7 linked regions of the Homo sapiens genome follow. The protein of the gene in region 2 interacts with the protein of the main gene of each other region in a biochemical or structural test. Each region holds a gene or a part of one and is shown on either strand. Other genes may lie near its edges.

Evidence for each region.
Region 1: the proteins of RHOA (region 2) and DIAPH3 form a complex in vitro, tested with the Homo sapiens proteins (one study listed by BioGRID).
Region 3: the proteins of RHOA (region 2) and PLEKHG2 form a complex in vitro, tested with the Homo sapiens proteins (one study listed by BioGRID).
Region 4: of the proteins of RHOA (region 2) and ARHGAP32, one has a biochemical effect on the other in vitro, tested with the Homo sapiens proteins (3 studies listed by BioGRID).
Region 5: the proteins of RHOA (region 2) and ARHGEF3 form a complex in vitro, tested with the Homo sapiens proteins (one study listed by BioGRID).
Region 6: the proteins of RHOA (region 2) and ARHGAP35 form a complex in vitro, tested with the Homo sapiens proteins (3 studies listed by BioGRID).
Region 7: of the proteins of RHOA (region 2) and ARHGEF1, one has a biochemical effect on the other in vitro, tested with the Homo sapiens proteins (one study listed by BioGRID).

Annotation. Positions count from the first base shown.
Region 1 is NC_000013.11:60,157,429-60,160,928, forward strand, and holds part of DIAPH3 (protein diaphanous homolog 3), read right to left. Parts: intron 1-3,500. UniProt on the Homo sapiens protein: Actin nucleation and elongation factor required for the assembly of F-actin structures, such as actin cables and stress fibers. Required for cytokinesis, stress fiber formation and transcriptional activation of the serum response factor.
Region 2 is NC_000003.12:49,370,477-49,373,976, forward strand, and holds part of RHOA (transforming protein RhoA isoform 1 precursor), read right to left. Parts: intron 1-3,500. UniProt on the Homo sapiens protein: Small GTPase which cycles between an active GTP-bound and an inactive GDP-bound state.
Region 3 is NC_000019.10:39,415,669-39,419,168, forward strand, and holds part of PLEKHG2 (pleckstrin homology domain-containing family G member 2), read left to right. Parts: intron 1-679; coding exon 680-746; intron 747-882; coding exon 883-929; intron 930-1,181; coding exon 1,182-1,332; intron 1,333-1,886; coding exon 1,887-2,024; intron 2,025-2,236; coding exon 2,237-2,437; intron 2,438-3,065; coding exon 3,066-3,158; intron 3,159-3,248; coding exon 3,249-3,335; intron 3,336-3,500. UniProt on the Homo sapiens protein: May be a transforming oncogene with exchange activity for CDC42. May be a guanine-nucleotide exchange factor (GEF) for RAC1 and CDC42. Activated by the binding to subunits beta and gamma of the heterotrimeric guanine nucleotide-binding protein (G protein).
Region 4 is NC_000011.10:128,968,826-128,972,325, reverse strand, and holds part of ARHGAP32 (rho GTPase-activating protein 32), read left to right. Parts: intron 1-1,166; coding exon 1,167-3,419; 3' UTR 3,420-3,500. UniProt on the Homo sapiens protein: GTPase-activating protein (GAP) promoting GTP hydrolysis on RHOA, CDC42 and RAC1 small GTPases. May be involved in the differentiation of neuronal cells during the formation of neurite extensions.
Region 5 is NC_000003.12:56,746,450-56,749,949, forward strand, and holds part of ARHGEF3 (rho guanine nucleotide exchange factor 3), read right to left. Parts: intron 1-3,500. UniProt on the Homo sapiens protein: Acts as a guanine nucleotide exchange factor (GEF) for RhoA and RhoB GTPases.
Region 6 is NC_000019.10:46,912,997-46,916,496, reverse strand, and holds part of ARHGAP35 (rho GTPase-activating protein 35), read right to left. Parts: intron 1-3,500.
Region 7 is NC_000019.10:41,881,926-41,885,983, reverse strand, and holds the start of ARHGEF1 (rho guanine nucleotide exchange factor 1), read right to left. Parts: upstream 2,801-4,058; 5' UTR 2,695-2,800; exon of another isoform or gene 1,517-2,694; coding exon of another isoform or gene 1,491-1,516; intron 1-1,490. UniProt on the Homo sapiens protein: Seems to play a role in the regulation of RhoA GTPase by guanine nucleotide-binding alpha-12 (GNA12) and alpha-13 (GNA13) subunits. Acts as a GTPase-activating protein (GAP) for GNA12 and GNA13, and as guanine nucleotide exchange factor (GEF) for RhoA GTPase.

The sequences.
Region 1 (3,500 bases), on a different chromosome or scaffold from region 2:
AGAATTTCCACTGTGGTCTTTTTATAGTTTCTGTTTCTCTACAGAGGTTTCCTATCATTTCATTCATTGTGAGCATATTTCATTTATATTCTTAAATATGGTTATACAACTGCTTTAAAATCCTTGTCTATTAATGCTTACAACTGAGTTATCTTGAGACTGGTCTCCATTGATTCCTTTTTCTTGTTTGTATGGGTCACATTTTCCTGTTTTTTCCTAATGTCAAATACCTTTGCACTGTATCCTGAACATTGTGAATGTATGGTGTAGGGACTCTGAATTCCTTCTATTCTTCTGAGAAGTATTGCTTTTTGTGTTTGTTTTAGCAGGCAGTTAACTTGGCTGAACTCTCAAACTGCACATACTGTCCCATCCGCTGGATGGGACCTGAAATCTTAGTTCAGATATGTTAGCCCTACCTGTGCTGCTTGGAGTCTGTCCCATACATGTAGGGTTCAGAAATTTGAGGACTCTACACACAGAATTTGGGGCTACCCATTTGTGGCTCCTTCTCCTCTCCAGGATTTTCTCCTCATTTATCAGCTATATGGTCACCAGAACTCTGCCCTCTGGTTTTTTATGCCAGTACAACTGTGGGCTTATATTCTAGTTTTAACCACCCCACATGACCCTGATTAGGGGCTTCCCTTATGCAAAAAGCTACAAAAAATGACAAACTTATCCAGTGCTAGTCCCTTCTTCCAAGTATTGTCTCCAATAGCCATGTCTTTTGATCACTCTCCAGTGTTTTAATAGTTGCTTTTTATAATTTTGTCATGTGAGAGGTCTGTGGTCCAATGAGATCTCAGCCAATACTGGATGCAAAGTTTTTGTTAGTTCCTTTTTACAGAGCAAAGACATCTTTCTCAGAATTCCCCAGCAGATTTCTCCTTTAGCTTACTGGCTAGAATTGTTTTCATCTGCTCTTTGTTAATCCTCTTTGTTCTGGGGCCTGCATGCCTGGAAGGATTTGGCTGCAACACACTGGCTGGTATACATTAATGAGTTGGGTTACAGCTTATTCATTAAGCTTGTGAGCTTAGTTAATGTGTATCCACCTCAGACATAGATTCAATCTCCATGTGCTGACCATATCACTGTCCAAGGCCCCAGATGTCCAGATGTGTGGAACTTTGGGGCTGCCTCCTCCTGGTGGAGTTCAACAGGCCCAGGCAGAGGTTGCTTGAACCACCTGTGGTTGCCCCAGCTAAAAGGGGAGAAGCAGCCACATTCCACAATCTGGACTGGCTGGGAAGCTGAGCAGGGAGTTCTAGAGTGGCAGCCCAAACTCAGGCAGGCAAGCACTGAAGGATGGTTCCTCATCCTCCCAGCAGGAGGTTGGAGGCTATGAGATACCCTGTCTCTCAGGGGCTGGAAGAGCAAAGAGCAGTATCTCTTTCAGACATCCTGCTGTCAGAAGTTACACCACAGCACAGTCATACATTGGGTTTAATTGTTGCTCCTGCCTGGCCCCTCTTAAAAAAAAAAAAAAAAAAAAAAAAAACCAAATAACCTGTAAAGTCATTTTTTGCCATATAAGGTAACATTCACAGGTTCCAGGGATTAAGGAGTGTCTACCTTTCAGAAGATCATTGTTCGGCCTACTACACCTGCTTCCAAATAACCCAAAGTAATTGGCAAACATGCACTAATCTCATTAAGCTTACTGGGATTTCATCTGTACTCAAATTCCTACTACGTGTACAATCAACAAAAATTCTCCAACCTTGTATATCTTCTCACCTCGCAGCCTGCCTATAATCAGAAAATCAATTCTATATTCATATTATATATTAATTAAAGGCATCACTAATTATTGCTAATGGTTCCTGGATGAGAAAAGAAGCAGTAAAGATTAAAGTTCCCAACAGCTATGGGAGAGAATTCAGGACAGTGATTAAGAATGTGTATTCTAGGCCAGGTGCGATGGCTCACGCCTGTAATCCCAGCACTTTGGGAGGCCGAAGCGGGTGGATCACTTGAGGTCAGGAGTTCAAGACCTGCCTGGCCAACATGGTGAAGCCTCATCTCTACTAAAAATACAAAATTAGCCGGGCGTAGTGACACGTGCCTGTAATCCCAGTTACTAGAAGGCTGAGGCAGGAGAACTGCTTGAGCCCAGGAGGTAGAGGTTGCAGTGAGCCAAGATTGTGCCACTGCACTCCTGTCTGGGCAACAGAATGAGACTTTGTCTCACAAAAAAAAAAAAAGAAAGAAAGAAAGAATGTATACTCTGAAGCCAGCTTGCCTAGATTCAAATCTCAGCCTCATGAACTGGCAGCTGTGTGATTTTAGGCAGCTTAATCTCTGTGTACCTTGGTTTCCTCCTATGGCAAACAAGATTAATAATACTACCTACCTCACAAGGTTGTTCTAAGAATTAAAGGAGTTGATAATTACAACGCACCTAGAACAGTGCTTGGCTCACTCAGAAAGGTTAACTAGTATTACCATCAATGCCCAAACATGGTAAATATACAGAAATTAAAGGACAAGGTGAAAAAATCTCAAAACCGGCCAGGCGCGGTGGCTCACGCCTGTAATCCCAGCACTTTGGGAGGCCGAGGTGGGCGGATCACGAGGTCAGGAGTTCGAGACCATCCTGGTTAACACGGTTAACCCCGTCTCCACTAAAAATACAAAAAATTAGCCGGGCGTTGCGGTGGGCACCTGTAGTCCCAACTACTCGGGAGGCTGAGGCAGGAGAATGGCATGAACCCGAGAGGCGGAGCTTGCAGTGAGCCGAGATCACGCCTCTGCACTCCAGCCTGGGCGACAGAGCAAGACTCCGTCTCAAAAAAAGAAAAAAAAGAAAAGAAAAATCTCAAAACCAACACTGAAGGTACTACAATGACATAATCAATCAATAATTAACAATCTATTTGATGGAAACGATTAGACGATTTACACTGAAGTCTGTGAGAACTTTTAGAGGACTCTCCTAATTAAAAAGAACTCCTTCATCAACTTGGACCACCAATTTACAGGCTCCCTTTGAATGGACTGACCTACATCCTAGAGATGGACACTTCTAGAAGCCACATGTCCTGCTCTGCCACCACTACCTGTGTGTTGCCAAGAGTAATGAGAAACAGGTATTACTGAAAGGCTTTCCACAATCTGTAGGACAACTGTTCTGTTCTACAAAGGATATAGGACTCAGGTCCAGGTATTGAGTGTGGCCTAGGGCAGGTTCCAAGTTTAATTCCTACGGAATTTTATCTGCCTTCACAAAGTCTCCACCCAGATACTTGCCCTGTCCTCTCAGCCTCCTCCATCTCTCTTCTATGCCCCAGTAGCTATCCCTACCATCTCAATGCTCACGGCTTAAGATATTTTCAAATGAGACCAAGTTGGTTAATTCACAAGCATCCCAAAGTCAATTGATTCGTAGCACAGCCAAAGTATCATACAATTACAATAGACTAATTTCTACTATTTATACTTATCTATGGGAAGAGATATCTAAGCTACAAACTCTTTTACCCAACTCACAAGTG
Region 2 (3,500 bases):
GAAACCATGGAAACAAATCTGTATTTTGAGTTGGTAGGTAGGAAAAGACACCATGCTGGCTGTTAGGCAAGGCCTGAGATGACAGGAAAGCCCTTTTGGCTGTGCCTTTACTACTCAAGAAATGTCTGAAATAATGCATCACGTAAGGTGAGAGAGTACTCCTTTCACATCCGGGTACATCCTCACCCTCCTGTGGTAGAAGGGTAAACTGATGCCTGGGCTCTGAATACAAGTCCCATTCAACACTGCCCAGCACTGCACCCAGCTCTGCTACCCCATTCTTATCACCAGACTCCATGTTAAACATCCTCTGTACAGAGGCCCTTTGAGGCCCAAGAGGTCTCCCTCCAATACTTGGAACACATCTTTCTTCTCTTAGCACCTTCACAGCCCAAATTTCAGTTTCTAAATGATTTCTTCCTTAAAATTGATGGCTCTTCCACCCCCGAACTTTTGCCCCAGGATGCATCACAAATAACCTCCACAAGGCCCACTGTACTTCTGTCATGCAAACCATCATTCTGGCATGTGTAACTAAGATATACTGATGCCCAATTATCACAATCTGTCTGCCCTCACAATAATGGAGCTCATTTACTCCCTGGCAAATCCCACTCTCCCGGCCCCCTCCACCCCACGGTGTTTAGTCATATATCCAGCCTCTATTGGCGCTTGATAAAATGCTTCCAAGATGTTGAGTCTGTCTCATATCAAAAGGGGCCTTTTCATTGTGAGCAGGCCTACTCTTGGTACCATGATCACCTACAATCTTGTATGGTTCCCTAGGCTGTACTATTGCCTACTGTTTTTTTTTTTTTTTGAGACAGAGTTTCGCCCTTGTCGCCCAGGCTTGAGTGCAGTGGCGCAGTCTCAGTTCACTGCAACCTCTGCCTCCCAGGTTCAAGTGATTCTCCTGCCTCAGCCTCCCAAGTAGCTGGGATTACAAGTGCCTGCCACCACGCCCAGCTAATTTTTTGTATTTTTAGTAGAGATTGGGTTTTGCCATGTTGGGCAGGCTGGTCTCAAACTCCTGACCTCTGGTGATCCTCCTGCCTCAGCCTCCCAAAGTGCTGGATTACAGGTGTGAGCTACGACGTCTGGCCTTATACTATTGCATACTGTTAAATGAATATTCCTACACAGTACCCTCTCCCATCTTGGGGACTCTTGAGTTGCTCTGAGGCAGGCAGGTAGCCTGTAATATGCTCTTCAATCAAACACTTTTATTCCAGGGGACTCTCCTCAAGTGAGAACCTCCCCCTATCTTGCGAGGGTCAGTGATGTCCAAGGTTTGCAGCACAAGAAAAATACTCACAGACCATGCCTCAAGGTTTTAAGTCAAGGTCTCTAAATTTCTTATGGGCAAGATTCTGGTTGTTCCAAGATGCCCAGGCAGAAATAATGTTTCCAAGAGAACCAAAGAGCTGCTTCCAAAACATACATACTGCCACAGATGGAAAAGACCCTTCCAGTTCATGCTTACAGACATGCAGCAATTAACAGCCACTCTCTGGAGAAAATGTTAGGATACAACCAGTAATATACATTCACTACTAGGCTTTTGAGAAATAAGCTATGAAAATGCCAACCTGACATTGCTTCCCCAAGCCAATGGATCTTTCTATGTATGGTGCATCAATCTAAGTTAGGTAAGAGGGCTATAACTTGACACCAATCCTGAAGATGTCATCACATTTCTACCTAGTTTGTCACAACTGGGCCCTGTGTCCATATAAAACCAGTTTTCCTATCAGGACCACAAAAACACCTATGTCCAAGCATCCATGCTTGGCTGAGGCTGAATTAACACCCTCTGTATTGGTTTGCCACCTTCAGGGTACATCCCAAAATTCTGTTAGGCTGGTATTTGTTGTATTTTTTCCATCTATACTTGGGCCAGAAAGTATCTTAGAGTTCCTATTAGCATAAGAGCAATCATCGTGGCTCACTCTGTATTTGAATAAAAAAGAGCACAAACTATAGGACGGGCGCAGTGGCTCACGCCTGTAATCCCAGCACTTTGGGAGGCAGGCAGATCACGAGGTCAGGAGATCCAGACCATCCTGGCTAACACGGTGAAACCCTGTCTCTACTAAAAATACAAAAAACTAGCCAGGCGTGGTGGCGGGCGCCTGTAGTCCCGGCTACTCCGGAGGATGAGGCAGGAGAATGGCGTGAACCCAGGAGGCAGAGGTTGCAGTTAGCAGAGATCACGCCACTGCACTCCAGCCTGGGCGACAGAGCGAGACTCTGTCTCAAAAAAAAAAAAAAAAAAAAGGACTACAAACTATGAAAGAGGGTTTTGAACATGGCAGTATTCATCTCTTAGAAAGCGCTTTGGTGCTGCCAAACATTTTCCGTTACTTCACAGAACCTTGATGTCACCTATAAAAACCGTTTTACAAATGAGGAAGGCTCAAAGGTCAGGAGCTTACTGATGGTCAAACAACTATCAGGAAGCCCTACAATGAGGGACCCTGGAGTTCTGAGCAGCTGATCTAACCCACATTCCTCACACAGTGCCACAAAAGGAGGCTAGGTGGCCCTAGGACAGAAAGAAATAAGTAATGTGGACAAGTAGAAGTGGCCAGGCACGGTGGCTCATGCATGTAATCCCAGCACTTTGGGAGGCCAAGGCGGGCGGATCACCTGACGTCAAAAGTTCGAGACCAGCCTGGCCAACATGGCGAAACCTCGTCTCTACTAAAAATACAAAGATTAGCTGGGCTTGGTGGCAGGCACCTGTAATCCCAGCTCCTCGGGAGGCTGAGATAGGAGAATTGCTTGAACTCAGGAGGCGGAGGTTGTTGTAAACCAAGATCATGCCATTGCACTCCAACCTGGGTGATAGAGGGAGACTCTGTCTCTAGACAAACAAACAAAAACAAAGTAAGAAAGGAGAAAGGGGATGAATGGAAGCTAATATATCAAGTGTTAGCAGCATATGAGACATATAACTGAATGCTCAAGAAAAATGAGAATGTTGGAGAAGAGCACCTCATTCTAGTTTTAGGGGTTTTTTCCTTTCAGCTGACCCACTTCAAAAGATGTATAGGAGAGCTGGGCACGCTGGCTTGCGCCTGTAAGCCCAGCCACTTGGGGCTGAGATGGAAGAACTTGAGCCCAGTTGTTTGAAACCAGCTGGACCAACACAAGACCTCATCTCTAAAAACATAAATTACCCAGGTGTGGTGGCACATACCTACAGTGCCAGCTATTTGGGAGGCTGAGGTGGAAGGATCACTTGAGCCCAAGAGTTCAAGGCTGCATGATCATGTCACAGCACTGCAGGCCTGGGAGACAAAGTACAATCCCTGTCTCTTTATTTAAGAGAAAAAAAAAAAAGTATGAGAGGCCAAGCAAAGCATTACTTAGACAACAAAAGGAAGCAGAAGATTAAAAAAAAAAACAAAAACAAACCAAAACCAAAATTAAAACCCAAAAAAACCCTCCAATTTCACAAGAGCTTTGTTCCAGTCTTGCCAGAGGGCTTTTAGGAC
Region 3 (3,500 bases), on a different chromosome or scaffold from region 2:
GAGGGAGGGGCATAGCGGATGGGAGGACCCCGAGTGAGGGAGGGGCATAGCGGATGGGAGTCAGAGGACCTGGATGAAGCCCAAACACTGGGACAGGGTCCCGGCATCAGGACGAGTCCTTGGGGCTGTGTCAGGTCTGGGCTCACGATGAATCCAAGAATCATATGGGGCCTGAAGGCCGAGACAGCGTGAGCATGCGAGTGACCCCCTAAGCCTGATTTGCCTGGGACTTTTCCAGTTTTAGCACTGAAAGCCCTCGTCCTAGGAAACTGCTCAGTCCCGGACAAACCAGGATGGTTGGTCACTGTGGTAAGGAGGACTCTGGGGTCCAAGGATCATGACATTTCCAAGTACCTTGACGAGGTCTCGGGATTACAGCAGGAACTTAAGATCATCCTAGCTCTTTGGGTCATGATATAACACCCCTAGGCTCATGCCAGCACTGACACAAGTTCAAGCTGAGGAATGAGAAGCTGTCCAGGGACAAAGTCTAAGCAGGTTACCATGCCCCGTGTAGCCCTCAGAGGACCCTTCCTCCGGACATGACATCCCCTTAGGAGATGCTGGCAGTCAGCAAGCCCCCAGCCCCAGCAGACCATTGGGGCCTCAGCCTCCTGGAGGCCTCCCATGGAGGGGTCGTGAAGGCAGGCGGTTCCTCACCCTCCCCTCTCCCCTGTAGCGAGCTCCTGGAGGACTTGGAGAACAGCAGCAGCGCCGGGGGTATTGCCGAGTGCTTCGTGCAGAGGGTGAGTGGAGGGGTGGGGGGCTCTCGGTCCTGGATGGGGCCTTTGTAGAGGGGGGAGAGCAGGCTTGGGCTAGGCTGGAAGGGGGGTCGTGGGAAGCCAGGACCTGGGGTCTCCCTGACTCCCATGTCACCCGCAGAGCGAGGATTTTGACATCTACACATTGTACTGCATGAACTACCCGAGGTGAGGGGCAGGAGCCCCTGCTGGGCCTCAGGCTGTGCCCACAAGCTGATGTGCCAGTCACCCGTCACCCTCCCTCTACCCCCGACCCATCCAGCACCGACCCCTGCCAGGCTGTGACAGTAACTGACCTCTCCCTCACTGCCCCGCCCCCTGTCAGACCCTGACCCTTCCCAAACCCTGGCCCCTCCCTAACCCCTCTTGACCCCGCCCACTGGAACTGACAATCCCCACTGACCTGTGCTGTGCCCCCAGCTCCCTGGCCCTGCTCCGGGAGCTGTCGTTGTCTCCGCCAGCAGCCCTGTGGCTGCAGGAGCGCCAGGCCCAGCTTCGCCACTCGCTGCCCCTGCAGAGCTTCCTGCTGAAACCTGTCCAGCGCATTCTCAAGTACCATCTGCTGCTGCAGGTCAGCTGGGGCCCCTGGAGCCAGGCTGGGGAGGGGGAGGTCCTGTCCCTTGACCACCTGTTGGTTCATCTGGAGGATGGACCCCCCACGAGTTGGGCAAGGCCTCCCAAAGTGCTGGGATTACAGGCGTGAGCCACCGCGCACAGCCCTAGCTTTTTTTTTTCCCTTTGAGGTGGAGTTTCACTCTTGTCGATGAGGCTGGAGTACAGTGGTGCGATCTTGGCTCACTGCAACCTCCACCTCCTGGGTTCAAGTGATTCTCCTTGCTCAGCCTCCTGAGTAGCTAGGATTACAGGCGCACACCACCATGCCCAGCTAATTTTTGTATTTTTAATAGGGACGGGGTTTCACTACGTTGGCCGGGCTAGTCTCGAACTCCTGGCCTCAGGTGATTTGCCCACCTCAGCCTCCCAAAGTGCTGGGATTACAGACATGAGCCACTGCGCCTGGCCTCTGCCCCTATCTTTATATTTCTCCATCTCCTGTTATTCTCATTCTCTTTCTCCTTCTCTGTTTCTCTCCCCATCCCTGCGTGCCTGGTGGCTGCCTGACAGGAACTAGGGAAGCACTGGGCGGAGGGCCCAGGCACTGGGGGTCGCGAGATGGTGGAGGAAGCTATTGTGTCCATGACAGCGGTTGCCTGGTACATCAACGACATGAAGCGCAAGCAGGAGCATGCAGCGCGCCTCCAGGTGGCCCCAGGGTGGGCTGGGGCTTGCTGGATGAGGGAGTGAGCGAGGGGGCCTTGGGGCGGGTGGGGGGAAATCAGTGCCTCAGAGGTAGCCTTGGAGGGTTGGCTGGGACAGCATGGCCCTGTTGCTAACCCCCTGTTTTGGTGTGTATGTGTGTGCCACCTACCCATGCTTGTCTCTGCGCCCCGGCGCACCTGGCGGGGTCCCGGCAGGAAGTGCAGCGGCGGCTGGGTGGCTGGACCGGACCAGAGCTCAGTGCTTTTGGGGAACTGGTGTTGGAGGGCGCGTTCCGAGGAGGCGGAGGGGGTGGCCCCCGGCTACGAGGGGGTGAGCGGCTGCTCTTCCTGTTCTCTCGGATGCTGCTGGTGGCCAAGCGCAGGGGGCTGGAGTACACCTACAAAGGCCACATCTTCGTGAGTTTGGGGATGGGGTGGGGCTAGAATACTACCTACAAAGTATATCCCATATACCTGTATCTGTGTGCCCGGCAGTGTGGGCCAGGGGACCCTGCCACATTTTCTTGAGTTAGAGAATGGAAGCCAAGGGAAGCTTTCTTTCTAGTGTATAGAATGAGAGCTGCCCCACTTAAGAAAAAAAAGGAGAAGGCTGGGCGTGGTGGCTCATTCCTGTAATCCGAGCACTTTGGGAGGTCAAGGCGGGCGGATCACTTGAGGTCAGGAGTTCGAGACCAGCCTAGCCAACGTGGTGAAACCCCGTCTCTACTAAAAATACAAAAATTAGCTGGACGTGGTGGCAAGTGCCTGTAATCCCAGCTACTGGGGAGGCTGAGGCAGGAGAATTACTTGAACCCAGGAGGCGGAGGTTGCAATAAGCCAAGATCATGCCACTGCACTCCAGCCTGGGTGACAGAGCAAGACTCTGTCTCAAAAAAAAAAAAGGGAGAGGAAACCCACCATACAGCCTTATGGGATGCATCTTCCTAGGGAGGAGGACCCAGATACACCTCCAAGGGTGTCTCCGTACAAGGGGCATCACTGAGCCCAAGGACTCTGAGCTTGCTACCCCTCTCTTTCCTTCCAGTGCTGCAACCTGAGCGTGAGCGAGAGTCCCCGAGACCCTCTAGGGTTCAAGGTGTCTGATCTGACCATTCCCAAGCACAGACACCTGCTCCAGGTGAGCATGTAGTGGGATCAGGCTGGCAGGGATCCCCCAGCCTCGAGACCTCACACCTGGCCCCCTGACTCTACTCCAACCCACTCCTAGGCCAAGAACCAAGAAGAGAAGAGGCTGTGGATTCACTGTCTCCAGCGCCTCTTCTTTGAGAACCACCCTGCCTCCATCCCTGCCAAGGTACAGCTCCTGCCGCAGCCGGGGGCCCTCTGAGTGCTGGAGACACCCTCCCCCAATAGTACTAAGAGACGCCCCTGCCCAATGCCAGAGCAGTCTGTTATAATGTGATTGCTAAAAGTGCAGAATTCCGCTACTTGGGTTTGAATCTTAGCTCTACCATGTCCC
Region 4 (3,500 bases), on a different chromosome or scaffold from region 2:
ATGAGATAGTTCCCATTTGAGGTTGGAGTCTGCCATTACCTTGATGCTGGCTTTTCCCCAGGAAAGGAGTAGCTCCTAGATGACTATAGCTTAACTGTACCTGCTCCCTTTTCTTCCTAAAGTGTCTCGGTAGTTTATTCCAGTAACACAAAGAGATCAGGATCAAATGAGACAAAGTGGGCTTTACGGTTGTGGGTTGCTTTTTCTTATTTTTTTCCAACTCCATCACTGACTCATTGTGACTTTGGGCAAGTCATTTACCTACCCTCTGCCAATTATTCACAGTTACACAATGAAAATACTTCATTCTCAAAACATTCGTAAGACTGTCTGCCTTGCAGACTTTTTGGAAGTATAAGAGATTATAGTGCCTTGGGATTTTTTGTTACTTTCCTAGCATTCACCAGCAGTTTGTCCCATAGTCAGGTGCCTGTTTCAATGAGAGAATGTAGTATGCAGAATGCTAAGGTTTCTTCCTGAATTTCCTCATATTTTAAGAAAGTGCCACAGGTTGTTTTTCTTCTATATGGTCACCTTGAACTATTAATAGGACTTAAGATTTTAGACCTTAGTGGAGGATGCTGTGTTTACTGCTTCTCAAGGATAGCATGTTTTCAGTATGAGGATTATCTTTGGCCAGACTAAGGTGGAATCAAAGGTAGGAGAGAGGCAGTAGCTTCTGATTTGAATATTGCCTTTCCCTATGTTTGAAGCCCTAAAACTGCTAACTGTGTACAACTGTGAATTTCAAAAGTCTCCCCAGATGATAGAATTAACTCTTAATTTAACAAGATGTCCTTTGTGTTGAGACTGAGCTAGACTAATAGACCGGGTATGTATTTTTAAGCTCTACAGCATTACTTGACTAAACCTCTCTTTTGGTTTGTATATTAAAATTATGCCATAGGCAACCTCATCTCGCATTTAAAACCTCTCATAAATTAGAAAACTTTGAATGGTTCTCCAAAGATAATACTGGGTGTTGTACAAAATAGCAGCACAAGCCTTCTTTTCCTAGAAATGGGTACAGATTCATTGCAACCACATGGCTTGGGAAAGTTCAAGCTGCTACCCAACCAGCCTTAATTTGTGAGTTACAAATTTAATAGTACTTGATTCATAGAGGGAACAAAAAATAGACCCATAGTATTATCATCTTTCAATAGGTTCAAGGAGTAGTTCCAGTTCCAGAGAGGCCACCTGAACCTCGAGCCATGGATGACCCTGCGTCTGCCTTCATCAGTGACAGTGGTGCTGCTGCTGCTCAGTGTCCCATGGCTACAGCTGTCCAGCCAGGCCTGCCTGAGAAAGTGCGGGACGGTGCCCGGGTCCCGCTGCTGCACCTGCGCGCCGAGTCTGTCCCTGCGCATCCCTGTGGCTTTCCTGCACCACTGCCCCCCACCAGGATGATGGAGAGTAAGATGATTGCTGCCATACACTCCAGCAGTGCAGATGCCACCAGCAGTTCAAATTATCATTCCTTTGTCACTGCTTCATCCACCTCTGTGGACGATGCATTGCCTTTACCACTTCCTGTCCCACAACCTAAGCATGCTTCTCAGAAAACAGTTTACTCCTCCTTTGCTAGGCCCGATGTCACCACTGAACCCTTTGGTCCAGATAACTGTTTGCATTTCAATATGACTCCAAACTGCCAGTACCGTCCCCAGAGTGTACCTCCCCATCACAATAAATTGGAGCAGCACCAAGTGTATGGTGCCAGGTCAGAGCCACCAGCCTCCATGGGTCTTCGTTATAACACATATGTGGCCCCAGGAAGAAACGCATCTGGACACCACTCCAAGCCATGCAGCCGGGTCGAGTATGTGTCTTCTTTGAGCTCCTCTGTCAGGAATACCTGTTACCCCGAAGACATTCCACCGTACCCTACCATCCGGAGAGTGCAGTCTCTCCATGCTCCGCCGTCTTCCATGATTCGCTCTGTTCCCATTTCACGGACAGAAGTTCCCCCAGATGATGAGCCAGCCTACTGCCCAAGACCTCTGTACCAATATAAGCCATATCAGTCCTCCCAGGCCCGCTCAGATTATCATGTCACTCAGCTTCAGCCTTACTTTGAGAATGGCCGGGTCCACTACAGGTATAGCCCATATTCCAGTTCTTCTAGTTCCTATTACAGTCCAGATGGGGCCCTGTGTGATGTGGATGCCTATGGCACAGTCCAGTTGAGACCCCTTCACCGCCTTCCCAATCGAGACTTTGCTTTCTACAATCCTAGGCTGCAAGGAAAGAGCTTGTACAGTTATGCTGGTTTGGCTCCACGTCCCCGGGCCAACGTGACTGGCTATTTCTCTCCCAACGACCATAATGTAGTCAGCATGCCTCCGGCTGCTGATGTGAAGCACACCTACACCTCATGGGATCTTGAGGACATGGAAAAATACCGCATGCAGTCCATCCGGAGAGAGAGCCGTGCTCGGCAGAAGGTGAAAGGGCCTGTCATGTCCCAATATGATAACATGACCCCGGCGGTGCAGGACGACTTGGGTGGGATCTATGTCATCCATCTGCGTAGTAAATCAGATCCTGGGAAAACTGGACTTCTCTCAGTGGCAGAAGGAAAGGAGAGCCGCCATGCAGCCAAGGCCATCAGTCCCGAGGGAGAGGACCGCTTCTATAGGAGGCATCCCGAGGCAGAGATGGACAGAGCCCACCATCACGGAGGCCATGGTAGCACGCAGCCGGAGAAGCCATCCCTGCCTCAGAAGCAGAGCAGCCTGAGGAGCAGGAAGCTTCCTGACATGGGCTGCAGTCTTCCTGAGCACAGGGCACACCAAGAAGCAAGCCATAGGCAGTTCTGTGAGTCAAAGAATGGGCCCCCTTATCCCCAGGGAGCTGGCCAGTTAGATTATGGGTCCAAAGGGATTCCAGACACTTCTGAGCCAGTCAGCTACCACAACTCTGGAGTAAAATATGCTGCATCCGGGCAAGAATCTTTAAGACTGAACCACAAAGAGGTAAGGCTCTCCAAAGAGATGGAGCGACCCTGGGTTAGGCAGCCTTCTGCCCCAGAGAAACACTCCAGAGACTGCTACAAGGAGGAAGAACACCTCACTCAGTCAATCGTCCCACCCCCTAAACCAGAGAGGAGTCATAGCCTCAAACTCCATCATACCCAGAACGTGGAGAGGGACCCCAGTGTGCTGTACCAGTACCAACCACACGGCAAGCGCCAGAGCAGTGTGACTGTTGTGTCCCAGTATGATAACCTGGAAGATTACCACTCCCTGCCTCAGCACCAGCGAGGAGTCTTTGGAGGGGGCGGCATGGGGACGTATGTGCCCCCTGGCTTTCCCCATCCACAGAGCAGGACCTATGCTACAGCGTTGGGTCAAGGGGCCTTCCTGCCCGCAGAGTTGTCCTTGCAGCATCCTGAAACACAGATCCATGCAGAATGAGCCCTGCGAGCAATAGAGTTGAAGCAGCCTCTGCTGGACAGTGGACTGTTCTATTTTTTTCAATAACCAAAAAGATTAAAC
Region 5 (3,500 bases), 7.4 Mb from region 2:
GGCCAGGCGCAGTGGCTCGTGCCTGTAATCCCAGCACATTGGGAAGCCGGGGCAGGCGGATCACGAGGTCAGGAGTTTAAGACCAGCCTGGCCAGCATGGTGAAACCCCATCTCTACTAAAAATACAAAAATTAGCCAGGCATGGTGGCACACACCTGTAATCCCAGCTACTCAGGAGGCTGAGGCAGGAGACTCTCTTGAACCCGGGAGGCAGAGGTTGCAGTGAGCCGAGATCATGCCACTGCTCTCCAGCCTTGGCAACAGAGTGAGACTCTGTCTCAAAAAAAAAAATAAATAAATACATAAAAATAAATAAAGTATGGCAGCATCTGAAACTTTAAATACTCTGCTGCAGCTTTTACACCTCTTATTGAAATTATTTCCTCAGTGACTGAAACCATAAAAAGGATACCAGGAAAGTAATATTTTACAAGCTTACTATTGAGCTTAACATTCCTTTGAAATGTCTACCTTCCTTACATGTTATTAAAAATCTCTACTTGTGTTAAAGAGTTGCAGACATTTTTTCCCTCAACCTTATATTTGTGTAAGTACTAGCTATTATTATTTGAAAGTAATGATAATTGGTACTTATACATGCGCGCACACACACACAGAGAGAGAGAGAGAGAGAGAGAGAGAGAGAGAACCCAAACGTGGTACTGTGGCTTGTAATTTAGACTTTCAGAGTTAATTAAAAAGGGCCTCAGGCCCTCTTCATTTAATTTCCACTTCCTCACCTTTTAAAAAGATCTGGAAATGCCCAATGTTTTCATTAGGAAGAAACAAATCAGCAGTAACCATTGGATGTAAACTAGTGAGGAACCTCGACCACACTGCTGCTCACTGTCCAATGGGCCACTGCTCCCTGTGATCCTGCTGCCCTGCTACCATGGCAACCAAATGGGGCTCTGGTCCTGTGCTCTCACCTGACAGGGTGCTCATTTCCTGGGCATGACCTGAAAGGCTATCTGGTTCAGTCACCGGCTAGGAGAGGCCCCAAGTGATCTTTAACTACACAGGGTGAATAATGTACAAGATCTGGTTCTCAAATACAGACACTCCCTTATTCAGAATGAGAGGTGAAAATGCAGTTAAAGAGACTAGGCCGGGTGCGGTGGTTCACGCCTGTAATCATATTACTTTGGGAGGCACTTGAGGTCAGGAGTTTGAGCCCAGCCTGGGCAACGTGGCAAAATCCCGTCTTTACTAAAATATATAAAAATTAGCCGGGCATAGTGGTGCATGCCTGTAATCCCAGCTTCTTGGGAGGCTGAGTCACAAGAATCGCTTGAACCCAGAAGCCAAAGGTTGCAATGAACTGAGATCACATCACTGCACTCCAGCCTTGGCGACAGAGAGAGACTGTCTCGGAAAAAAGGACAGACTCAGTAATAGGGAGAATCAGGTTCAAAGCCTAACTCACACAGCTGTCAGTGACTCTTCCAAGCCTCAGTGTCTCCACCTACAAAATGTATATACTAATGTCCCCCTCTCCCTTAATGAGGTAAAGCATACAAAATGTGTAGCATGGAGCTTGGCTTCTGATATAGAATCAGTAAGTACTAGCTATTATTACTTGTCCCAAGAAGTTCTTTGTTTTCGAGATAGGGTCTCCCTTTGTTGCTCAGGTGGAGAGCAGTGGCATGATCATGGCTTACTGCAGCCTCTTCTTCCCAGGCTCAAACAATTCTCCCTCCTCAGCCTCTCAAATAGCTAGGGCTACAGGCATGCACCACCATGCCAGCTAATATTTTTTTTGTAGAGACAGGGTTTCGCCATGTTGCCCAGGCTGGTCTCCAACTCCTGGGCTCAAGAGATCCACCCGCCTCAGGCTCCCAAAGTGCTGGGATTACAGACGTGAGCCACTGTGCTTGGGCCCTAGAATATTTTTATTGAAGAAACTGTCGTTTAGAGAACCAAAGCTACTTGCTCAGCTGGAGACAAAACGAGAGTCTGAAGCTTGTTCTTGCTTCCCCTTTACCCTCAGAGTTCTGAACTATTCACCATCTCTTTATTAAATAGACTATCAAGAATTTATAAGGGAAACTCACTTTTTAAAGAAGTTCTTTTATCCCCCTAATATTGTGAAAAAATCTATTTTTTTTTTTTTTTTTGCTTCCATGTACTCTGGCTCTTTCCTGGGAATTAAAATTTAGTGAGACAACAAATTAACATGAGAACTTTCTGCCTTGGAGAGCTTATAAAGTATTTCATCATTGAAAAAACGTTGGCATAGAGATAAGTCACTTGGGAAGTTGTTTCTTTATGCTAGGGAAGGCTTACTCAAACAGGCTGACCCATTAGGGAGCGGGGACACTGATTCTCAGTAACCGGGGTAGTTCCCTGAAAAAAAGCAACCACTCTGTTTAAGGTCTTCAAAGTAAAAGTAATTGATTCATTCTAAGGTCAAAAGGACTGGCCAGGGCTGTCCCACTTGGAAGGCTCACTTGTTTAAAAGGGTTCCCCCCCACCCCCCTTTTTTCCTTTGCGGAGAAAATAAATCAATTTTTCATGGGTCGAATGGGACTCTTCTCATCCAAAGTCCACTAAGATGTTTATTTTGTTCTGTTAAAAATACAAGAACTCAAACATATGTACCCCTAGGTTTACTGTTCCCACTCAGACGGACACATCTGCAGTTAAAAGAGGAAAAACATTTAACAGCTTGTCAGGCCTGATAAATAAGGGCCATTTCTCACGAAGTCTGGCAACAACGGGCCAGTTGTTTAATTTTAGGCTGCTCTTCAAGATCCAAGTCCTCATTTGATGTCTGAAGCATCCAGATAGCAATGGGCCAGCATGGTCACACTTCCTTTGGGTATGTACAGAAAATGACTGCAAAGCTGCTCCCAGATCAAACCAATTTTCTAATAAACGTGACAAATGTTTATTTCAGCAAAAAGTTACTAACAAGGCAAATTCCTACAATTTTGCTTCTGGCATAAACTGACAATTTGCATATGATGCTTAAGGAAACCATGTAGTCCTGTACTGCTGTCTCATCAAAAGCAGAGGAGTTATCCTACAAATTCTGGAGTGTGGCCTAACTGCTCCATTTACCCCCATATCAAAGCAGTCCACAGACTCAGGAAGTTTAAGAGACACTGAGGCACTCTCTACTCATTATACCTTCTTTGTCTCTGTCTGTCTCCGGTTGGCTGGCTCTCTTTGGAGAAATTTCTTTGTGGGCTAAAGAAGTTAAAACATCTACGATGGCTCATAATAAAATGAAAGTCAAAAATATAAGATGAATGATCTCTCTTGAAATATTAAGGCATATTTTCTAAATTATTCATCTTAGAACATTACTTGCCTTTCGGATACCTTTGGGATATTTCAGCCTTGGTGCTAAAATTGACTCCTGAACTAAAGCTATTTAAGTCATGAAACTCTCATCAAGTATCTTGATCAAGGCAGTCATTGAGAAACGTAAGTTAAAAGATCAATGTTAAAACTTTCTGCACATCTATGTGTTATCAAGGCATGTTAACTGAAAG
Region 6 (3,500 bases), on a different chromosome or scaffold from region 2:
AGCATATTAAAAGGTCCCCAAGCCCAGCCTTTCAGATTCGGGAAAGCCTTTCTGTAGGAAGTTCCATCTCAGGTGAGACCTGAAGTATGAAGTGCATTTAAGACAGAGGGACAGAGTGTGCACAGACCCTTCCCTCCGCAAAAAAAAGCACTGCCAGTTGGGAGAACCAACTGGAACAAAGTGTGTGTGGGGAAAGAATGGGTAAGATGCATTAGCAAGGAACCAGGGACTGGATCAAACCACTTTAAGAGTTTGGATTCCTTCGCTGGGCGCGGTGGCTCACGCCTGTAATTCCAACACTTTGGGAGGCCGAGGCGGATGCATCACGAGGTCAGGAGATCAAGACCATCCTGGCTAACATGGTGAAACCCCGTCTCCACTGAAAGTACAACAAATTAGCTGGGTGTGGAGGTGGGCACCTGTAGTCCCAGCTACTCAGGAGGCTGAGACAGGAGAATGGAGTGAACCCGGGAGGTGGAGCTTGCAGTGAGCCGAGACACGCCACTGCACTCCAGCCTGTGCGACAGAGCGAGACTCCATCTTAAAAAAAAAAAAAAAAAAAAAAAAGAGTTTGGATTCCTTCCTGAAGGCTATGGGGAACCACAGAATGTGGCCAAAAAAATGGCACCTTAAAGAACCTAAAGTTTTAACAGCTTAAGTTAAACAAACTGTTATGGCTTACAGTCTTTAGCAACTTTCCAGCTACGACAGTTTATGCTGCACTTCAGTTTACTTAGATACTCCAATATAACTGTGCAAGCACTGAACCTGCAGCCAAATGAACATTCTCTCAAGACAATCACAAAGAGGAGAATCTGAAATGAACAGAGCAATTTTCTTCTGAATCTCATTTATGTCTGTAGGAACCTAGGCTTGCCATGACCTCATTATGTTTTTGTAAGCCTATTGCATAAGAAATGCCACTGGAAGTCAGACCACCACGCATTATTCTGACTGACACCAGGGAGCAATGAATGGGAGAGTGCAATTGTCCCCTGTGATGATAACCTCAAAAGGTCACAGACCTTTTCCAAACATCCATAGCTTCCTTCTGATATCCCAGAAAGCCAAACCCTCTATGGAAACAAAATGTGACTAGACGTAGTATGCAAAAACTACATTTTAAAAAGAAAAATCTCAATGACTGTAGGCAATTGCCTCCAGATAATGGCATGTTCCTAAAGATGCCATGTTCTAGAATTCAGCAGGAACAAGCAAGGTATCCACGGGAAAGAAAAACAAACCTTTCGCATCCTCTACTTTTCTAGGCGATTGCTTACATAAACAAAATTATAAGATGCTTATGAATATCTAAAGCATGTTTACACACATCCTCTGAAATACCTAAAGGAAGCATCTGTACACAATCAATTACTCTGTAATATGCACATATAATTTTGTTTCAATCCATGAAGAAACTTAGGTTGAACAGAGCCTCAGACAGGAGTGCTGATGAAGGGTTGAGGAAGTCATGGGTCCTCATCTAACAGAGTCCTTCTCTATCAATTCCTGACCCCAGGGTCTGTCAGGTCTTAAGGTTACCAATCTTGAAATGCAACTTGGTAGCACTGGTCCTACTTAAAGTGACCTCTGCATGCAATTGGCAAGTCATCCCTTGTCTGTGACTCAACTGTTCTCTGTAAAGTGGGTCTAATATTTATCCCTTCACAGAAATCTGAAGGAAAAACAGAACAAAACACCAGCCTGCTCTCAAACCTCAAGAAATAAAGATATTGGCTCTATTTTGAAATGAACTAAAATGTATTATCCATTCAACACCTTGGTTATATTTTTTAATGGCATATTTTCAGTTATTTGAAGGATGCTAAAGAAAGCAACACTCAACTCTGAATAATGTAGAACTGATTATTTTATTTTATGAGATGGAGTCTTGCTCTGTCACCCATGCTGGAGTGCAGTGCTGTAATCATAGCTCACTGCAGCCTCCAACTCCTGGGCTCAAGTGATCCTCCCACTTCAGCATCCCAAGTAGCTGGGACTACAGGTGCAAGCCATCATGCCTGGCTAATTTATTATTATTATTATTATTTAGAAATGGGGTCTTGCTATGTTGCCCAGGCTGGTCTCAAACTCCTGGCCTCAAGCAATCCTCCCACTCACACCTCAGCCTCCCAAAGTGCTGGGATCATAGGCACGAGCCACTGTGCCCAGCCACGACTGTTATTTTTAAACCCAGAATGCTGCTGATCATTAAAATAGCTACAAAAAGTGAAAATCAGCTGGCATGGAAGTGGTTAATTTTGGGACACCTGGTAACTTTCCACTTGTTAGAAACCTAATAAGTTTCTTGGTGTAAGTATACTCTTCTTAGCTTTGATGTCTAGATAATGCAGTTTTACTAGTTCCTCAATTGGACTGAATTACACGGTAAACAAAGACTGTTATAAATCTAAAAACATCTCAAACACTTGGTTTAGAGGAAATAACTTTAAGTGCTTGGTCACAAATACATTCAACTTAGTTCTAAGAGGTGGGTAAAAAAAATTAGCTGAGTCACTAAATTTAATGATCTGAAGGCCACAAAGAAAGAGAAAGTAGGAGACCGGGCATATCCAGACTTCACAATGTCTTTAGAGTTTAAATGTGATGGGAACCAGTGTTCTTAGCAGGCAACTAAGATACACAACAGAATCTGAATGTCCATTCTAATAATTTTCCAGTGCTAATCCTTTTTAAATGGAAGAGTTAAAACAGAGGGGAAAGAAGGATCCTTTAAAAATGGTAATTACTTTTATCTTTGAGCTGTACAGAGATATTTCATTAGAAAAACAGAAACACAGGACTTCAAAGTTTCCCATTTTATGCCAAGAGTCAACTACTTCAGAGAGGAAAATACTTCAGAAGTATTTTGGTTTCTCAGTCACAAATACATGCTGTAATAAAACATAATGCAAATATCTACGTGCCTTCTTCAGACTGTCACCAAGCATCTAGAGTTGTTTGTGATTTGTTTAACCAAGACACAAGGTCCCCACCAGAGTGCCGCAACTGGAAGGTAGAAGGAGGGTGTTTTCTTTTTTAACACCTCTATGAAACACTCAGGGCAAGAAGTGGTAACATTCCCAAGATAGCACACATTTTTGTAGGACCTAGAAATGCCACCGTGATCCCAGATTTACTATGACTGGGAAAGTTCATACTGTCAACAGCTCTATCAGCATACGCCTGGAAGTGTGTGTATCACTCTTCCAACACAGCGTGTGTATCACTCTTCCAACACAGCAACCTCATCCCTCTCTCCCCGAAGTAGGAAATGTTTGTGTGCTCTGTAATCTAGAATGCCCCCTAAGACAAAAATCTTCCACCATTATCCATAATAAAAATGACCATCTCCACCTGAGAATATTCAACAACTTCTGAAAACACACTGAGTTTCAAATAATCACATACAGAACACCACCAACTAGTAACACTGTAAGGAAATAATTTCATACAGAACTACAAGCAAAGGAAGTAAAATACTTGTTATCACAATTTTC
Region 7 (4,058 bases), on a different chromosome or scaffold from region 2:
CACTTGAGCTCAGGAGTTCGAGACCAGCCTGGCTAACATGGTGAAACCCCCATCTCTACAAAAGATAGCCAGGTGTGGTGGTTCATGCCTGTAGTCATAGCTACTTGGGAGGCTAAGATGAGAGGATCGCCTGAGCCCAGGAGGCAGAGGTTGCAGTGAGCCAAAATTGTGCCACTGCCCTCCAGCCTGGGCGACAGAGTGAGACCTTGTCTTAAAATAAAATAGGCTAGGCACGGTGGCTCTCGCCTGTAATCCCAGCACTTTGGGAGACCAAGGCGGGCGGATCACGAAGTCAAGAGATCGACACCATCCTGGCCAACATAGTGAAACCCTGTCTCTACTAAAAATACCAAAATTAGCTGGGCGTGGTGGCACGAGCCTGTAGTCCCAGCTACTCGGGAGGCTGAGGCAGGAGAATCGCTTGAATCCGGGAGGCGGAGGTTGCAGTGAGCTGAGATCGCGCCACTGCACTCCAGCCTGGTAACAGAAGTGAGACTTCGTCTCAAAAATAAATAAATAAATAAATAAAACAAAATAAAACAGAGAGCATTGCTTCAGAGCATGGGGAGCCCCCACCCTACCCTTCAGAAACTAAAATCTGAACCAAAGCTCTGAGACACATCATGTCTTCTTATGGATGCCTGGAAAAGTCACGGGTATGTGGTCACTATGGCCTAGGCAGGAGTGCAAGTTGGATACGGCTGCTCCACAGAGGCTTGGGGGTTGGAGATGATGGAGGCGAGGAGTGTCGCCTGTTTAGGAGGAGGGGTTTGGGGGAGTCCCACAAAGGCTGGAGAATTATAGGTGAAGCTGTCAGAGAATAGATGGATCTATAGGCAACTGACAAGGCCTGGGGGGTCCAGCAGAGGGAACACTGCGTGCATGGGGCGCTGGGGGGTTAGGGCTGGTTTAGAAGGTCCATGGGTTGGGGGGCCACATGGGTGTTGAGTTCTATGGAGGTCTCAGGGTCTATAATGTGTTGAGCAGGTGACTCAGGGTCTCCAAGAACTTCTGGAGCCTTAAAGAACCTAAAAGAGTCGTTGGAATGTGTAACTCCCCAGATTCTATTTGACACACAGTGGGTCTAAAGGATCCAGGGATCATACAGGATCATGATTCTATAGGGACAGCTGCCAGTCTGTGGAACCTCTGGAGACTTAAAAGGGACTCAGAATTCCATAGGGGTGCGTGGTGGGTCCCGAGACCCATGGTCTATAGAGCCCCGGATTCTAGGGGATGCCACTGGTCTATGAGGACCCCACGTCTATAAGAAGCCAGTTCTCCATGGGGGGCTGGCAGGAACCTGGAGGGTCTGTAAGACTTTATACGGAATGAGGCGGGTCTACACGAGACCCAAATCTTACATGGACGTGGCGGGTCTTACGCGGGCCCTAAATCCTACGGGGGACGTGGCAGTGTGCACGGCCAGGGATGCCGGGGAGGACGTGCAGAGTCAGGGTCTGACACCCGCTGGGGACCGCGTCCCTCACCTGCTCCAGGTGGAAAGAGAAGCCATCGCCGCCACCGGAACCGAAGCCTCCGCGCTCGGGCTCCGCACTCTCCCCACCCCTGCCGCCGCGTCGCTCTAGCCGCCCTGAGTCCACCTTTGCGCCCAGCTCCACTCCTCCTGCCAGCCGCTCTAGCCCGGCTCCTGCCGGGCTCCGGCCCCGACGACTCTACTCCTCCCGCCGGCCGCTCTAGCGCTGTACTGCGCCACGCAGGCCAGATAGGGCCGCTCTGGCCTGTCTTGGAGGGCCAGCGTTTCCGTATCTCGACTGCCCCCGTCACTCCCCGGGCCCCGCCCCGCGCCCGGAGGTGCAGATGGGTCCAACTCCTCCCGAGTTCGATCGGAGATCTCCTAGTCACCCCAGCGCTGAGCACTCGGACGGCGGACTGGGGCTCCCCGTCCTATTAGTCTCCCCACTTAGGGGACCCGCTGAATTTCCAATCCTCGTACATCAATCCCCTCCGTCTCCCACCCCCAGCCCCTTCCTTTGGAACCGGAAAAGCAATAGTCTTGAGTTCCAGCACAACTTTCCCTCTGACATGCAGTGTAATCTGCAAAAAGTAATGACTTCTCTGTAGACCTCAGTCTTCCCATCCGTACAATGGGAGAAGGCCTCCAGCTCTCTCCCTACACCTGTCTCTCACGGTATAATTAATGACCTAGAAAAGAGCTTTCCGAAAACTCTTTCAAATGCACTCTGCAACTTTCAGCTTCACAGCGACCCTCGTCGTTGTTGTTATTGTTGTTTTTCATTTTTAGGTGGCCCTAAAGCATGCGGGGGTTGGAGGATGGCGCTTTGCGGAAAGCACGTGCGAGTTCAAATCCCAACTCCACACTTTCTCACGATGTGCGTTCCCTGGGACGAGTCGGTTTGGCTCCCCGGGCCTCGGTTTCCCCACCCGTACAATGGTAGTGATCGTCCGTTCTCCACTGAGCAGGTGGGAGGCCTTGGCCCCGGCCTCGCACCGTTCGTCCCCACCTATGGGGCACTCGTCAAGTGTGAGTTCTCCCCTCTTTGCTCCCTTTGACAGATGGGAAAACTGAGGCCCAAGGAGGGGCGGCCGCTGGTTCCGTGGGGTCCGAAGGGGGCCCCTCCGCTGCCGGCAGCGCCCCAGCCCCTCCCTCCTCCTCCCCACTTCCCCCAACAGCCGAGGGGAGGAGGCCGGGCGGGGCCGGGGACCGAGTACCTGGTGTCCGCGCGGAGGTGACCGGCGGGGCGCCCGAGGTCGGGCTCGGCGATCCCGGGCCCTGGGTCCCGGCTCCCGCTTCCTGGCTCTGGCGGGGCAGGAAGTCGGGGCGTTTTTCCGGAGGCCCCCGCCCCGCCGCCCCTCCCCGCTTCCTGCCCGCGCCCCGCGCCCGCCCGGCACCTCCGCTTCCTTCCCCTTCTCGCCGCTTGCCCGCCCCTCCTTTCCCCGCTGCGCCCGGGTCCCTGCGGGCACCGGCCCCCGCCCCGGCCGCGCCCGAGCTCTCCCCGGCTTTGTCCATCGGTCCGTCCGCCGGGCGCGGGCTCCGCGGGACTCGCATCTCCCGGCTGGGGTCACCTCCCCGGAGGTGCTGGGGGGCAAGCCCTGCTCCCCGTGCGCCCTAGACCGAGCCACGACCTCCCCGGCTTTCCGCGTCTGTGGTTCTCATGGTCTTGCGCCCTTCCTTCGCCTCTGTGGGTGTGCTCCCGCCTGCGTCTGCATCCCCTTCTCTGTCCCTCTGTCTTTCTCTACTGGGGTCTTTCCCTCCTTGGCCTCCACCTCTCCTCTCTGTCCCTCCATCACTTTCTCCCCGAAAGCCCTTCTCTACCCTCTCCAGCTCTCTCTGTATCTTTCTGCATCTCCGTCTCAGTCTCTGTCATTTCCCCAGCTGTTGCTGTGCCTGGGCCTCTTCGTGCCCATTTTCGGTTGCCCCTTCTCCCTTCTGTCTCTTCCTTTCCTTCTCGCTCTCTCTCTGTCCCTTTCTCTCCACGTCCCTGTCTCTCTCCCGGATTCCCAGGGTCTCATCATCTCTTCCTTCCCTTGCTCGTCCCCTTCATGATCCCTGGGTCTCAGCCTCTCTCCTCTCCCTTTCTCAGGAAATCCGTGTCTCTGTGCCTCTCTGTCATTGCCCCGGGATCTCCCTGCTATCCCCAGGTTAGGACCACAGACCCTCCAAAATGCCCCTTCTGTAAGTCAACGCATCGGGAAAAGGCTGCAGTCTGAATTCTGTACTAGCCCCAATCCACAAGATAGTCCCTGTGTTTCCAAGGCTTAAATACGCATAAAGTGGCTCATGCCTGTAATCCCAGCACTTTGGGAGGCCGAAGCATGGTGGATCACTTGAGGTCAGGAGTTCGAGACCAGCCCGGCCAACATGGCGAAACCCTGTCTCTACTAAAACAAAAATTAGCTGGGTGTGGTAGCACATGCCTGTCATCCCAGCTACTCGGGAGCCTGAGGTACAAGAATCGCTTGAGGTGGAGGTTGAAGTGGGCTGAGATTGCGCCACTGCACTCCAGCCTGGGCGACAGAGTCAGACTCTGCCTCAAAAAAAAAAAAAAAAAAAAAAAAAGCGGCCGGGCGTGGTG